Linked DNA regions of Homo sapiens: regions 2, 3 and 4 are each reported to be linked to region 1. The links are microRNA targets in miRTarBase. Many come from high-throughput screens and were not tested one by one. Region 1 holds a microRNA gene; each other region holds the end of a gene's coding sequence. Distances are between the middles of the regions.

Region 1 (3,141 bases):
ATGGGCCACCTGTACAGGCATAGCCCGGCCACATGCCCAGCTAATTTTTGTATTTTTGGTAGAGACGGGGTTTCACCATGTTGGTCAGGCTGGTTTTGAACTCTTGACCTCAGGTGATCCACCTGCCTCGGCCTCCCAAAGTGCTGGGATTACAGGCATGAGCCACCGTACCCAGCCCCAGGTACTTTCCAATCCCATTCCAGTCTAGTCTGGTCGGGGGTAGGGGAGGCTTTCGGGGAAGGAGGCACCTGCTGAAGTTGATAAAATCTCTGGGCTAACTGGTTTTCCAGCTTGCTGTGACTGGCAGCACCCACGAGCCCAGGGGAAGAGCCTGGAGCCTCCTCACTCCCCAGCCTGGAAGCTTAAGCCTCAGGGTCCCAACTGATCCCCAGCTCCCTGACCCCCACAGCCCTGCCCAGCTGCTCAGGCCCTGGGGCAGCCAGAAGCAGGTGTGAGGGGGACAGAGTGAGCTCCTGGGCTCCAGGACCCTCCTGGGAGGATGGCCACCGGCCTTGGGGCCACCTGCTCTTTGCCCCTCCTCACTCTGCCCTGATTAGGGATCTGGACCCCTTGTTCCCCTCCATCAGCCACTGGAGCTCCTGCCGGGAGGGCCAATCCTCCCAACTCAATCTCCCTGAGACCCAGAGCCTGGGACTTGCCCAGCCCGGCTCCTGCCAGCCCCATGCCTCCCAACTGAGAGATGCCTTTTTTTTTTCTTTTTTTTTCCCCCTTGAGACAGAGTTTCACTCTTGTTGCCCAGGCTGGAGTGCAATGGCTCAATCTTGGCTCACCGCAACCTCCGTCTGCCGGGTTCAAGCGATTCTCCTGCCTCAGCCTCCTGAGTAGCTGGGATTACAGGCATGCGCCACCACGCCTGGCTAATTTTGTATGAGAGATCTCTTTTCTACAAGGGCTCAGAGGGAGGGTCCCGCGTGGCAGCAGCCCCTGAGGTCAGTGTGACAAGTCCTCTGCTTCTGGGAAGACTTGGCCCCATGAACGGGACAGACGGGGAGGTGTGGGGGACGTGCAGGACATTCCTGCAATCTCAAGCGCTTTCTGTTATAACACCCCAAGGTATAGACCTGGAATTAGCTGAGCTTCCCCGAGGCTGTCCAGCCTTCCAGCTCCTCTGCAGCGTGTCACTTCCTCGTCCCGTGGCCACCCACAGCCTCCCTGGCAGGATCGAGTTTCCCACCAGCAGGTCCGGGAGCCCTTCCTCCCTCAGTGCTCACCCACGCGCCAGCGAGAGAGCTGAGCCTTGTGAATAATTCACAACGATTCACAGCAGGCCCCAGAGGCTCACAAGAGCATGAAGCTGGGCCACCTGGGTCCCCTGATGGGGCCCTGTGTCCTGGGGCAGCTCAAGCCTCTGCCCTCCCCAGCTCCCAGCCCTCATATCCACAGCCTTGATGAGCAGGAATCCCTACCCCCAAGGTAGGAGGTTAAGTGGGTACCCCAGCCCCCAACCCCAATTCCCAGCTGCCCCTCCTGCGTGAGCCCAGCCTGGCAACCACACAAAGACACCTTCTTATCAGTCGAGTCACATGCTGCTGTGGGGAACGGAGCCCAAGCCCTCTGTCCACCTCCCTGAGATTCATGGTGACTCCTGGGGGGCTGGCAGCTCATCAGTCCAGGCCATCTGGCCACTGAGTCAGCACCAGCGCCCAATCACACACAGCACCTGGCATGGCCTGGGAGGGGGTCAGGGTCCCCCAGCCCCGGAGCCCTGGAGGGCGTTCCACAGCACAGCCAGTCTTCCTAACACCTGGGATCCAGCCCACGGAGGGATCACGGCTTCTCAGTGAGGAAGGCTCAGGGGCTGGCGGTCCCCACCAGCACTTGCAGAAGGTGGGCTCAGCGTCCTCCAGTTCACACTTGGGCCATATTGGTCCCGCCATCAGGGGCACCTGCCCCTCTCAAGACCTGTCCTTCTCCTCTGCTTGAAGTGAGGGGGTGGGACAGGTGCATCAGAATCACCGCCGTGAGGGTGGGGACATGTCCCAGGTGTGGCTCCCACGCCCCAACCTGGAGAGTCTAACTCAGGAATCTGGGACAGCCTCCAAGAGGTGCTGACAGGAGCCAGTTGGAACCCTCTACTCAAGGGTCCCTGGGGCCCTCCTAGTCTAAATCCCACTGACTTTGACATGATCCAAATCCTAGTTTGTTTGGAAGCAGTGAATTCATACCAAAGCTGCTCTCGTCCTGAGGCTGGGTCCACATTCACATTTACATCTCAGGCTCCCACTTAGACTAATGAGGGTCACCCATCAGAGCACCCCACTCCCCGCTCAGACCCCTGTGGCATCTGGCACCCTACCCTCTCAGACAGGCCCTGGGCAGCTTTCCCCAGGATCCCTGCCTCCCCAGGCGCACCTAACACCTGAGTCCCTCCCTCCCTCCCTCCCTCCCCAAGACTCACACATGCCCCCTGCTCTGTGTGACCCCCCACCCCACCCAGGGGAGCTCCCAGCCCACTCCCCAGGAGGTTTGGGATCCCCATGCTTCCCTTGATAGTAGGAACGGGCTGAGGGGCCACAGGAGATAACAAGATGCTCTCTGGATGGCCTCCAGCCAGGGGCTCTGGGGCCAGGAGGTGGGGTGGGGGTCTGGGAGGGGCCTTTCTCCCTTAACTGCTTGGTAACTGATGGGGTTCCCTTTCTGCCTGTTTGACTAGGGCCTAGGAGGCGCTCCTGCCCTTGCTGCCCCCGACTCCATCCTGAACAGTCTTGCAAATGAGCACAGCCTGAGCCAGAGAGAGCCCCTGCGGCAGAAGCAGCCCAAGGGGAACAGGTGACCTTGGCCTGTGTGCCCAGCCTCCCAGGTCCAGCTGTGTGCGGCCGGGCAGCTGAGGATGCTGGGAGCACCTGCTTGCAGGGCTCTGGGGGCAGCCCCAGAAGGGGTTTTCCAGGAGGGGAAAATTTCATGTTGAGTGGGAGCCATTTCTCTGGCCTGGCCCTCTGGCCCCAGGATGGCCACTGGAGGGATCATTGCCCTGGAGTGCCAGAGAGGCGTGGAAAATCCCAGGCATCCCCCAAAGCCCTGGCCCAGCCCACCCAGAGGACCCCTTAAGAGGGGTGATCTTACTCAGGGTAGTGCTCGACGAGAAGCCTCAGGGAGGGGAAGTCTCCTTTGGCGGCAGCG
Region 2 (3,141 bases), not on the chromosome of region 1:
AATTAGAAACTGTTTTCTAGTATTCTAAGTCCTAGTCCTGGCAACCGTGCCCGGCCCTCTACAGTTTACATCCAGTTACCACGCTAGAGGCTCAAGGCAGGCAAGTTTCATAGTCCCCAGTTTTCAGATGAGGAGTTGGGATTGGGATTGGGGTTGGTGCCAAACCTGGAAGATATCAGTCTCTCATTTTTGTTGTTGTTGTTGGTTGCACTTTTCAGAACCAAGAGCCACTGAGAGAGGAAGACTCTGATTTCATCCTGACCGAAGGCGACCTGACATTGACCTACGGGGACAGCACAGTGACTGCAAATGGCTCCTCAAGTTCGCACACCGCCTCCACGAGTCTGGAGGGCAGCCGGAGAACGAAGAGCAGCTCGGAGGAAGTGCTGGAGCGAGACCTGGGAATGGGAGACCAGAAGGTTTCGAGCCGGGGCACCCGCCTAGTGTTTCCCCTGGAAGATAATGCTTGACTTTCCCCCCAAGCCCTGGCGCGATGGGGTAGGCTCCCGATGGGGTGAGGACAGCTGCAAGCCCTAGTGTTGTTGGAGGTGGGGCAGTGACTAGATTGAACTAACTCTTCTATTTTATTGGGGTCTGAAGCTATTGTAACACTTAAAATTTAACTCACAATGCAGATGGTGAGGCAAAAGTGTCTCTAAATTCAGACAAACGTAGACCTATTCCCACTTTTTTCACATAGTAGTGCGCTGTTTCAGAGTTAAACAAACAAAAAAAAATAGCATGCTTTAATGGTCTCCTAATTCATTCACCTGCAGTATCTGAACAAGGCGAGGCAGGTGCTGGGTGGGGGGATTCCTCCCATGAGAGGCTGCATCTCAGTACACAGCAGTGCAAGTCAAGCTGACCATAGAATTATCAAGTTAAAGAGAAGGAAGGCAATTGAGATCGGAACTCCAAGGATTATGGGAAACTTGGTGTTAAATGGGACAGAAAACATGAAAAAGCAATTTGGAGGCTCTGGCAACGAAGTCTGCTTGACTGCAACCTCATATCAGGATTCCTGACTTTATGCTGCCTGTGTTTTTTCTAGACTGAAGATTTGAAAATACATCCACGAACATTTCAACATGGAACGAAGAATTATAGTTCCTTCTCTGGCTATATCCATAAAGAAGTAGTTATGAAATGTTTAAAACCAAAGGCAAATAGTGTTATACTCTTATTTTTTGATTAATCTGAGGAAAGGAGGTATTTAGAAACTGATGATGGTATCACTGCAAAAAGCATTCAACTTTTTTTTTTTGTTGAGATGGTGTTTCACTCTGTCACCCAGGCTGGAGTGCAGTGGCGTGGTCTTGGCTCACTGCAACCTCTGCCTCACGGGTTCAAGTGATTCTCCTGCCTCAGCCTCCTGATTAGCTGGGATTACAGGTGCCCACCACCATGCCCAGCTAATTTTTTGTATTTTTGGTAGAGATGGGGTTTCACCATGTTGCCCAGGCTGGTGTCAAACTCCTGACCTCGTGATCCACCTCCCTTGGCCTCCCAAAGTGCTGGGATTACAGGTGTGAGCCACTGCACCTGGCCAGCATTCAACTTTTGAGGGCTACCATATGAGCTGACAGCCTAGGGAAATAATCACTAGGACTGAAGTATCTACTCTGGGTTTAGAAATAACACCAAATTTTGTAGGATGCTATTATCTGGGAAAGGGAAGGCAGCAAGAAACCTACAAGGCACCAGGCTAGAATTCAGAGGGAAAGAAATCTCAATGCAAAAAAATTACTGCAAAGAAATACAAGATAGTAGTCTCAAGACTAGGTAGAATTCCAAACTTTGAGCCGACGAATGCATGAGATTTCAGTGGCCACCTGAGGAATCAGAGGGCAAACAATGGAACATTAAGTATTTTCAGCCCACTAGAAAGCTCTGTCTTCTATAAGCTTAAGAGTCCGAGTGTCTTTACACCACTGAGTGCCATGCAGAGAAGGGTCATTTTCCTTGTATCTGGGGAGGCTGCTGCACCAGCTTAACATGTGGGTGTGATTTGAAAGTTAGGTTTTCAGTTTGGATTCTTTCTGGATGAGCTGTTCTGTCTGCCCACACCTGTAGTGCTGAAATACAGAAAGACCTCTCGGGAAAAGTTTGAGTTTCTCTTAATGTCTCTGTGCTTCAGTGCTAGCTTATTTTTGGCAACCCAATTTCTAAAAAATGCTTTCAATAACGTGGGCTTTTCTTTTTTTCTTTCTTTCCTTTTTTTTTTTTTTTTTGAGATGGAGTCTCGCTGTGTCACCCAGGCTGGAGTGCAGTGGCGCGATCTCGGCTTACTGCAACCTCCGCCTCCCGGGTTCAAGCGATTCTCTTGCCTCCGCCTCCTGAGTAGCTGGGATTACAGGCACGCGCCACCACGCCTGGCTAATTTTTTGTATTTTTTAGTAGAGACGGGGTTTCACCATACTGGCCAGTTTTTCTTATGATGGAAGACAAAATATTGTGTCCCAGTCTAGTCCACCCGTAGTGAAATCAGTCATTTAATCTTCTCAATTCGCATGTTTAATGCTTAATTTTTAAATAAGACATTGCTTCACAACTTTGTGTTTGAATTGATAATTTGTGCAAATCAGGAAAATACGTATTTAATTAGGTTGAGCCATATGAGTTTGCTGATATTCGACCATTTTGTAAAAACAGGAGTGGCAATTTCATATGGTTCAATAAAATAAAATTGAGACCGGGCACAGTGGCTTATGCCTGTAATCCCAACACTTTGGGAGGCTGAGGCAGGAGGATCACTTGAGCTCAGGAGTTCAAGACCAGACTGGGCAACATGGCAAAACCCTGTCTCTACAGAAATACAAAAATGAGCCAGGCATGATGGCACATGCCTGTAGTTCTAGCTACTTGGGAGGCTGAGGTGGGAGGATTGCTTGAGCCCAAGAGGCAGAGGTTGCGATGAGCTGAGATCATGCCACTGCAATCCAGTCTGGGCAACAGAATGAGACCCTGCCTCAAAAAAAAAAAAAAAATACAGTTGAATGATTTTTATTCTCCTCTTTCCTTTTTATCTACAATAAAGTCCATTTTGATTTTATGGTCATCCATGGGCTTTGGAAGTTTGAAAAATGCTAAACAACCTATCCAAACCCATGAGCCCTCAGGGTCAACTAGGCTAGTGAAGGA
Region 3 (3,000 bases), 100 Mb from region 1:
GTAGTTGTCTTCCATAAATTTTGTTAATTGTAATAGCTAGATATTTGTTTCTGCAGACGTTGTTAAGTTTGGTAGTACCCGGTGCATTTAGCAGTAACATTTCGTTTTTGTTTTGGAATGTTATTCAATATTGCAGCAGAATTTTGATAAGAAAAGAAAAGCAAAAACTAATAAGAAGATGGATCACATAAAGAAGAGAAAAACAGAGAATGCTTATAACGCAATCATAAATGGGGAAGCTAATGTCACCGGTTCCCAACTCCTAAGCAGTATTTTACCAACTTCAGATGTGTCACAACATAACATTCTCACGAGTCACAGCAAAACCAGACAAGAAAAGAGAACTGAGATGGAATACTATACCCATGAGAAGCAAGAGAAAGGCACTTTGAATTCAAATGCAGCTTATGAACAAAGTCATTTCTTCAATAAAAATTATACCGAAGATATTTTCCCAGTGACACCACCGGAGTTAGAAGAAACCATTCGAGATGAAAAAATAAGAAGACTTAAGCAGGTGCTGAGAGAGAAAGAAGCAGCTCTTGAAGAAATGCGTAAGAAGATGCACCAAAAATAAAATCTCCTGTAAAGACTTCAGTGAAATAGCTGTTTTTTAAAATATACTTCAGCATTAATAAGTTAATTGTAGGTGTGTTCTGAAAGTGTCTTTGAATATGAAGCTTGTTTTTTCATCAGTCGATTGTACAACTTTAAGGAATACAGAAAAGGTTGATTCACATATGACTTGTGAATAATTTACATGGGGTATCTATACCTTTGTCTTAGATACCTTTTTTTGGAAGGATAAATTTTATATTTTTCTATTATTTTAACTAGAATTCTCCAAGTTTGAATATTTGGGCAGGGTTTTTGTTATTGTTTGTATCTTTACCTAAATTGCTCAGGCATTATTCCAGCAGTAGATAGTGACTGTGTATTACTGAAATTTTACAATTCAAGAGAGGAAATCAGCTCCAAACTTAGCTTTTCCAGTGGATTTGTATATGTACTTGCTTTATCTCTTTACCCTTAAAATGATGATACCTTGTATTCACCATTGTTTTTTTTAATGTCGTGAAATAATATGTATTATGGCAACATTATTTAAACATTCAAACATTTCTCAAGAATGAGCAACATTTGTAACTTTACAATGTAATTTTATATAATCCAAAGGTATTTTAGAATTCAGGCCATTTGATGTTTTGTTTGCTTATAGTGATGTGTTCCCAGGCAAATGCTGCTTTTTTTTTTTTTGGGACTATGTACATACGTTACTGAGATTGTGTAAAAAGTAGATCCTGAACAGTTATCACATTTAATATTTCTTAAACTGTAAAAGTGTATTTTCTCTGTCTGGTTAATCTTTGATTTGGGAAAGTTTGGGAATGGTGTAGGGATAGGGATTAAGAGATGGGGAGTTAGCTGAGCGTGGTGGTGTGTTTGTAGTCCCAGCTACTCAGGAGTCTGAGTGGGGAGGACTGCTTGAGCCCAGGAGTTTGAGGCCAGCCTGGGCAGCACAGTGAGACCCTGTCTCTTAAAGGAGGAGGAGGAGAACAATGTTATTAAAAAATGATCAGGCCGGGTGCAGTGGCTCACATCTGTAATCCCAGCACTTTGGGAGGCCGAGGCGGGCGGATCACCTGAGGTCAGGAGTTTGAGACAAGCCTGGCCAACATGGCGAAACCCTGTCTCTACTAAAAATACAAAAATTAGTCGGGCACAGTGGCGGGCACCTGTAATCCTAACTAAGGAGGCTGAGGCAGGAGAATCGCTTGAACCTGGGAGGCAGAAGTTGCAGTGAGCCAAGATTGTGCCACTACTGCACTACAGCCTGGGCGACAGAGCCAGACTCCGTCTCAAAAAAAAAAAAAAAAAAAAAAAGGATCAAATCTCTGGAAGTAAGAGAGGTTAAAGAAAAAAAAAATCTGTGCAATGGCAACAAAAGAGTAAATCAGAAAATACTGTAAAGAAGTGAAATACACAGATCAGCTAGATTTTGCTGCTTTCTATTAACAGCTGTTTTGCAATATAATTCATGTACTGTAAAATCCAGCTTTTTAAAGTACACAGTTCTCTGGTTTTTAATATGTTTACAGAGTTGTACAACCATCAACACTATAATTTTAGAACATTTTCAAAATGTTCAAAACATCCCCCAAACAAACCTTATACCCATTAGCAGTCATTCCCCATCACCTCTCCTTATGCCATAGGCAAGCACTAAAAAGCTTTCTGTCTTTATGGAATTGCCTGTTGTGAACATTTCATATATATGGAATCATACAATATGTTTTTCTTTGTGATTGGTGTTTTTTTACTTAGTCTAATGTTTTCAAGGTTTATCCATGTTGTAGCATTTATCAGCACTTCATTATTTATTGCTGAATAATATTCCATCATGGATATACCACATTTTATCCATTCGTTATGAATATTTGGATTGTTTCCACTTTTGGCAGCTACAAGTAATGTTGCTGTGTATATTTGTGTACAAGGTTTTTTAATGGGTATATATTTTCAGTTCTCTTGGGTATATACCTAGGACTGTAATTGCTGGGTCATACAATAACTGTGTTTAACTATGTTTTGAGGAACTGCCAAACTATTTCAGTCAGGTTTTGCTCTCCCCACACCACATAAACATACTGTCAAGGTCACCAGTGACTTCCATATTACTAGATTCAGTAGTCAATTGTCAGTCTTCTTGATTTATCAGCAGAATGTAATTTCATGAATCATCACTTCCTTTGAAAAATGTTGAAACATTCTGTCATAGAAACAGTGCAAATGTATTGTAGAAAATATAGGCCAGGCGCAGTGGCTCACACCTGTAATCCCAGCACTTTGGGAAGCCGAGGTGGGCAGATCACCTGAGGTAAGGAGTTTGAGACCAGTCTGACCAACACTGGTGAAACCCCGTCTCTACTAAAAGTAGAAAAATTAGCTGGGCATGGTTGTGCATGCCTGTAATCTCGGCTACTGGGAATGCTGGGGCAG
Region 4 (3,141 bases), not on the chromosome of region 1:
AATTAGCCGGGTGTGGTGGCACGTGCCTATCTTCCCAGCTGCTTGGGAGGCTGAGGCAGGAGGATTGCTTGAGCCCAGGAGTTTGAGGCTGCAGGGAGCCATGATCGCGCCACCGCATTCCAGCTTGGGCTACAGAGCCAGACCCGGTCTCAAAACCAACCAAACCAACAACAACAGCAGTAACAACAAAACTAAGTAAAAGGAACAAGTTATGAATGACTTTCACAAGCAACAATTGGAGGATGGTTACTAACCAAAATCACCCATGCCAAACCCCACAGAAACTGCTGTACCAACGTGCTCCACACGTGCTCCACAGATGAAACAAGACAGTCATAAGAACTACACGCTCTGACCACTGCCCACAACGGTAAGTTTCAAGAAGTTTTCCTGGGAAATGTGGGCCATCAGAGTGCTGATAAAACACTGCTGGCCCACCTGTCAAATGGGGCTTCACAGGGAAGCTCATCACATAGATGTTACAACAAAGTCTGCAACTTTCAAGGTGGGCAGGACCAGAGAAGCTCTCCAGGTATGCAGGATAGACCTCCAGGGCCATCCCTTTATGTGTTTGAATATTTCATCAGGATTCTTCAAGAGTAGGTAGAACAAAGCCTCAGTCCTCCAAAAAAATGACTCAAAATTTCTTAAGTTAGGTTCAAGTTTCTGACATAGGATGGGATTGTGAACTCTGCCAAAAATTAGTGAAAGGGCTGGGTGTGGTGGCTCACGCCTGTAATCACAACACTTTGGGAGGTGGAGGCGGGTAGATCACCTGAGGTCAGGAGTTTGAGACGAGCCTGGCCAACATGGTGAAACCCAGTCTCTACTAAAAACACAAAAATTAGCTGGGCATGGTAGTGCACACCTGTAATCCCAGCTACTTGGGAGGCTGAGGCGGGACAATCACTTGAACCCAGGAGGCAGAGGATGCAGTGAGCCGAGATCGTGCCACTGCACTCCAGCCTGGGCAACAGAGCGAAACTCGTCTCAAAAAAAAAGTGAAAGGGTTGTAAGAAGCACCCCAGTTGGAGACATGTAAAATGGAAATTCTCTTAATATTTCCAAATGCTTGAAGGCCAAAGCCAAATGCAAATTCCACAAGCCCTTCTTATTTTCAATTAATTTCAAATCATCTAAGTTGTTCAGTCATTTATACAATTTTGAATCAGTGCTCAGAGCTAAGGAATTATGATGATCTTACTTCCCACCTACAGATCAGGCTAACAAAAATGTTAACACTGCAAACCAACCTGTAAGAATATCAGTGAATGTTTATGGATCAGCATCTAGTCTAAGTATTTTGTGCCGTCATCACCTTGAAAAAATGGATTGCACCACATATTACACCGCCTGCCTTTCTCAGACCGTCCTGGTGCAACTTTATCAAGTAAGAGGCCACAAGGACATTATTTTTGTTTTTAACGTGTGGCAAGATAGACCCTCTTTTTCAGGAGTTATTTTCTTTTCGTCAAGATTTCATATCCAAATATATTTAACAAGATGACTAAATCTAGGGCATAAGACACTACAAAAGAAAAAACATCAGACAAAAACTGTAAACAAGATGTCAAAGAAACTAAAATGTAAACTTAATTAAAAAAAGAAAACAAGAGAAAAACTCAGAGCAAGGTGTAAACATACCAGACACACAGGACACAGGAAGAGGCTCTGGTTGCTGCTGCCCCAGAAAGGAACTGTGATCTTCTGCATTGCAAGCAGCCTGCTAATCAAAGCCTGAAAAATCGCCCCCAAATCAAAACGCATCAAAGGGCTGCAGGTGCACATTCTGCATGAGGAGTGAGAGAATCAGCATTATCATGGCAAATAGCTCTCAGCCTGGTAAGCGAAGGATTCAGGCTCCTACTGAAGGGACAATCTAGGTAATGGCCTCATTTAGCCAAGAAAATCTGTAAGAAAGCTATTGGTGGAAAGAAAAGACTTGAAACAGATTGGCTGACAAATGCCATGTGGCTCTACAGCCACCGAGTCACAGTGGCAGGAAGAAGAAATGCATGTGGCTGGTGGGCTTGTTATCACAGGTGCAGAAAACTTCAACTCCTAACTGAGCTCCAACACACAGGCACTGCTACCTTAGTGTCTGTTAACTTTCAAAGACGCCGCGTTTTTGCTAAATCTCAGTGCCATTTGCATACTACTTGGAGGTGGGGCTGGGAAGGGCTGTGAGTGTCCATCTGTTTGCCTGGAATGCATTTAGTTGATAATAGAGTCAGATGGGGGAAGGGAATTAGAGGAAGAGCAGGGTATTTGGTAACATGCAATCTAGTAAACTTCCGGCACAAAAATACCTGGCTTATTTTCATTATTCAATTACCCATTAATACATACCAATCAAAAAATAATTGGGGAATAGTATATTAATACTGAAAGTAATCAACAGTATAAGAGCAGGTCCATCTTCACTGGCAGTCAAGCTTTTGGTGTGCTGTATTGCACCTGGTTAACTAACCCATGAGATTTTGGTTGAATTTTCTAAGAAGTCACGGTTTAGCACTGGAATGGAATAGAAAGTGTGTGTCTGTGATTGTGTGTGAGTGTACGGTGTGTGTGTGTGTGTGTGTGTGTGTGTGTACTTCCTCTAGTCAGAAACCTCTGATCACTTTGTCTAGCCTGGGATTATGGAAACTAGACAAAGAAGGTGTGTTCTGAAGAGCTGTGTATCTTACACACATACACAGGCGGCTTCTTATATACCCACACATACAAACACACATGCCCTGCAAAAGATCATTGTTCAATGCTGAGGAAATGTTCACCGCAGTCTGATAAATGCTGTGGCTGGGAGTTTCAGTAGCACAGTGTCCAAAAACGTTGAGCCATCTGTGGAGACCAGAGCCCACTCTGGCCCCAGGGTGAGGTCCCTATGACAGGTGGGCGCTGTTCCGCAGCCAGTGCAGGCCCTGTTGGGAGTACTGGACCAGGTGCTCCATGCTGCTGTGCAGGGTGACCGGCCCCATGAGCAGATCCAGGTCGTTGAAGAATTCTAGGGGGACAGAAAGAGTTGTTAAGAATGCCACACATGCTAGGTGTGCTATCCTGAGCAACTGATGTAAGGAAAAATTCCATTCATGGTCTCTATATAAATCAAGGATTCTCCGTTCCATCATGTAACTTTAGCAT

What was found. Region 1 holds the annotated microRNA hsa-miR-4252 (GGCCACUGAGUCAGCACCA, at 1,642-1,660, shown strand). A microRNA usually pairs through its seed, bases 2 to 8, with sites in the 3' UTR of a target mRNA and lowers its output. Matches are read on the target gene's strand: a 7mer-m8 pairs with bases 2 to 8, a 7mer-A1 pairs with bases 2 to 7 and ends in A, and an 8mer does both.
Region 2: miRTarBase lists SLC9A7 as a target of hsa-miR-4252. Seed matches in the 3' UTR shown: 7mer-m8 at 1,304-1,310, 7mer-m8 at 1,823-1,829, 7mer-m8 at 2,268-2,274, 7mer-A1 at 2,654-2,660 and 7mer-m8 at 2,700-2,706.
Region 3: the mRNA of LRIF1 is a reported target of hsa-miR-4252. The part of its 3' UTR that is shown has no 7-base or 8-base seed match.
Region 4: miRTarBase lists AFF3 as a target of hsa-miR-4252. Seed matches in the 3' UTR shown: 8mer at 950-957.

What each region holds. Positions count from the first base shown.
Region 1 is chr1:6,428,363-6,431,503 of GRCh38, reverse strand. MIR4252 (microRNA 4252) reads left to right here and starts at 1,608; the gene lies at 1,608-1,670. It overlaps ESPN (espin), which reads right to left. Exons shown (of 13, transcript NM_031475.3): 2 at 3,085-3,141. RefSeq lists an enhancer at 2,827-2,946.
Region 2 is chrX:46,604,281-46,607,421 of GRCh38, reverse strand. It overlaps SLC9A7 (solute carrier family 9 member A7), which reads left to right. Exons shown (of 17, transcript NM_001257291.2): 17 at 219-3,141. The coding sequence ends at 470. Among named protein-coding and RNA genes, the nearest start is that of CHST7, 32 kb to the right of the region's middle.
Region 3 is chr1:110,945,536-110,948,535 of GRCh38, reverse strand. LRIF1 (ligand dependent nuclear receptor interacting factor 1) reads left to right here. Exons shown (of 4, transcript NM_018372.4): 4 at 137-1,346. The coding sequence ends at 577. Among named protein-coding and RNA genes, the nearest start is that of LRIF1, 17 kb to the left of the region's middle.
Region 4 is chr2:99,548,592-99,551,732 of GRCh38, forward strand. AFF3 (ALF transcription elongation factor 3) reads right to left here. Exons shown (of 25, transcript NM_001386135.1): 25 at 1-3,004. The coding sequence ends at 2,883. Among named protein-coding and RNA genes, the nearest start is that of REV1, 60 kb to the left of the region's middle.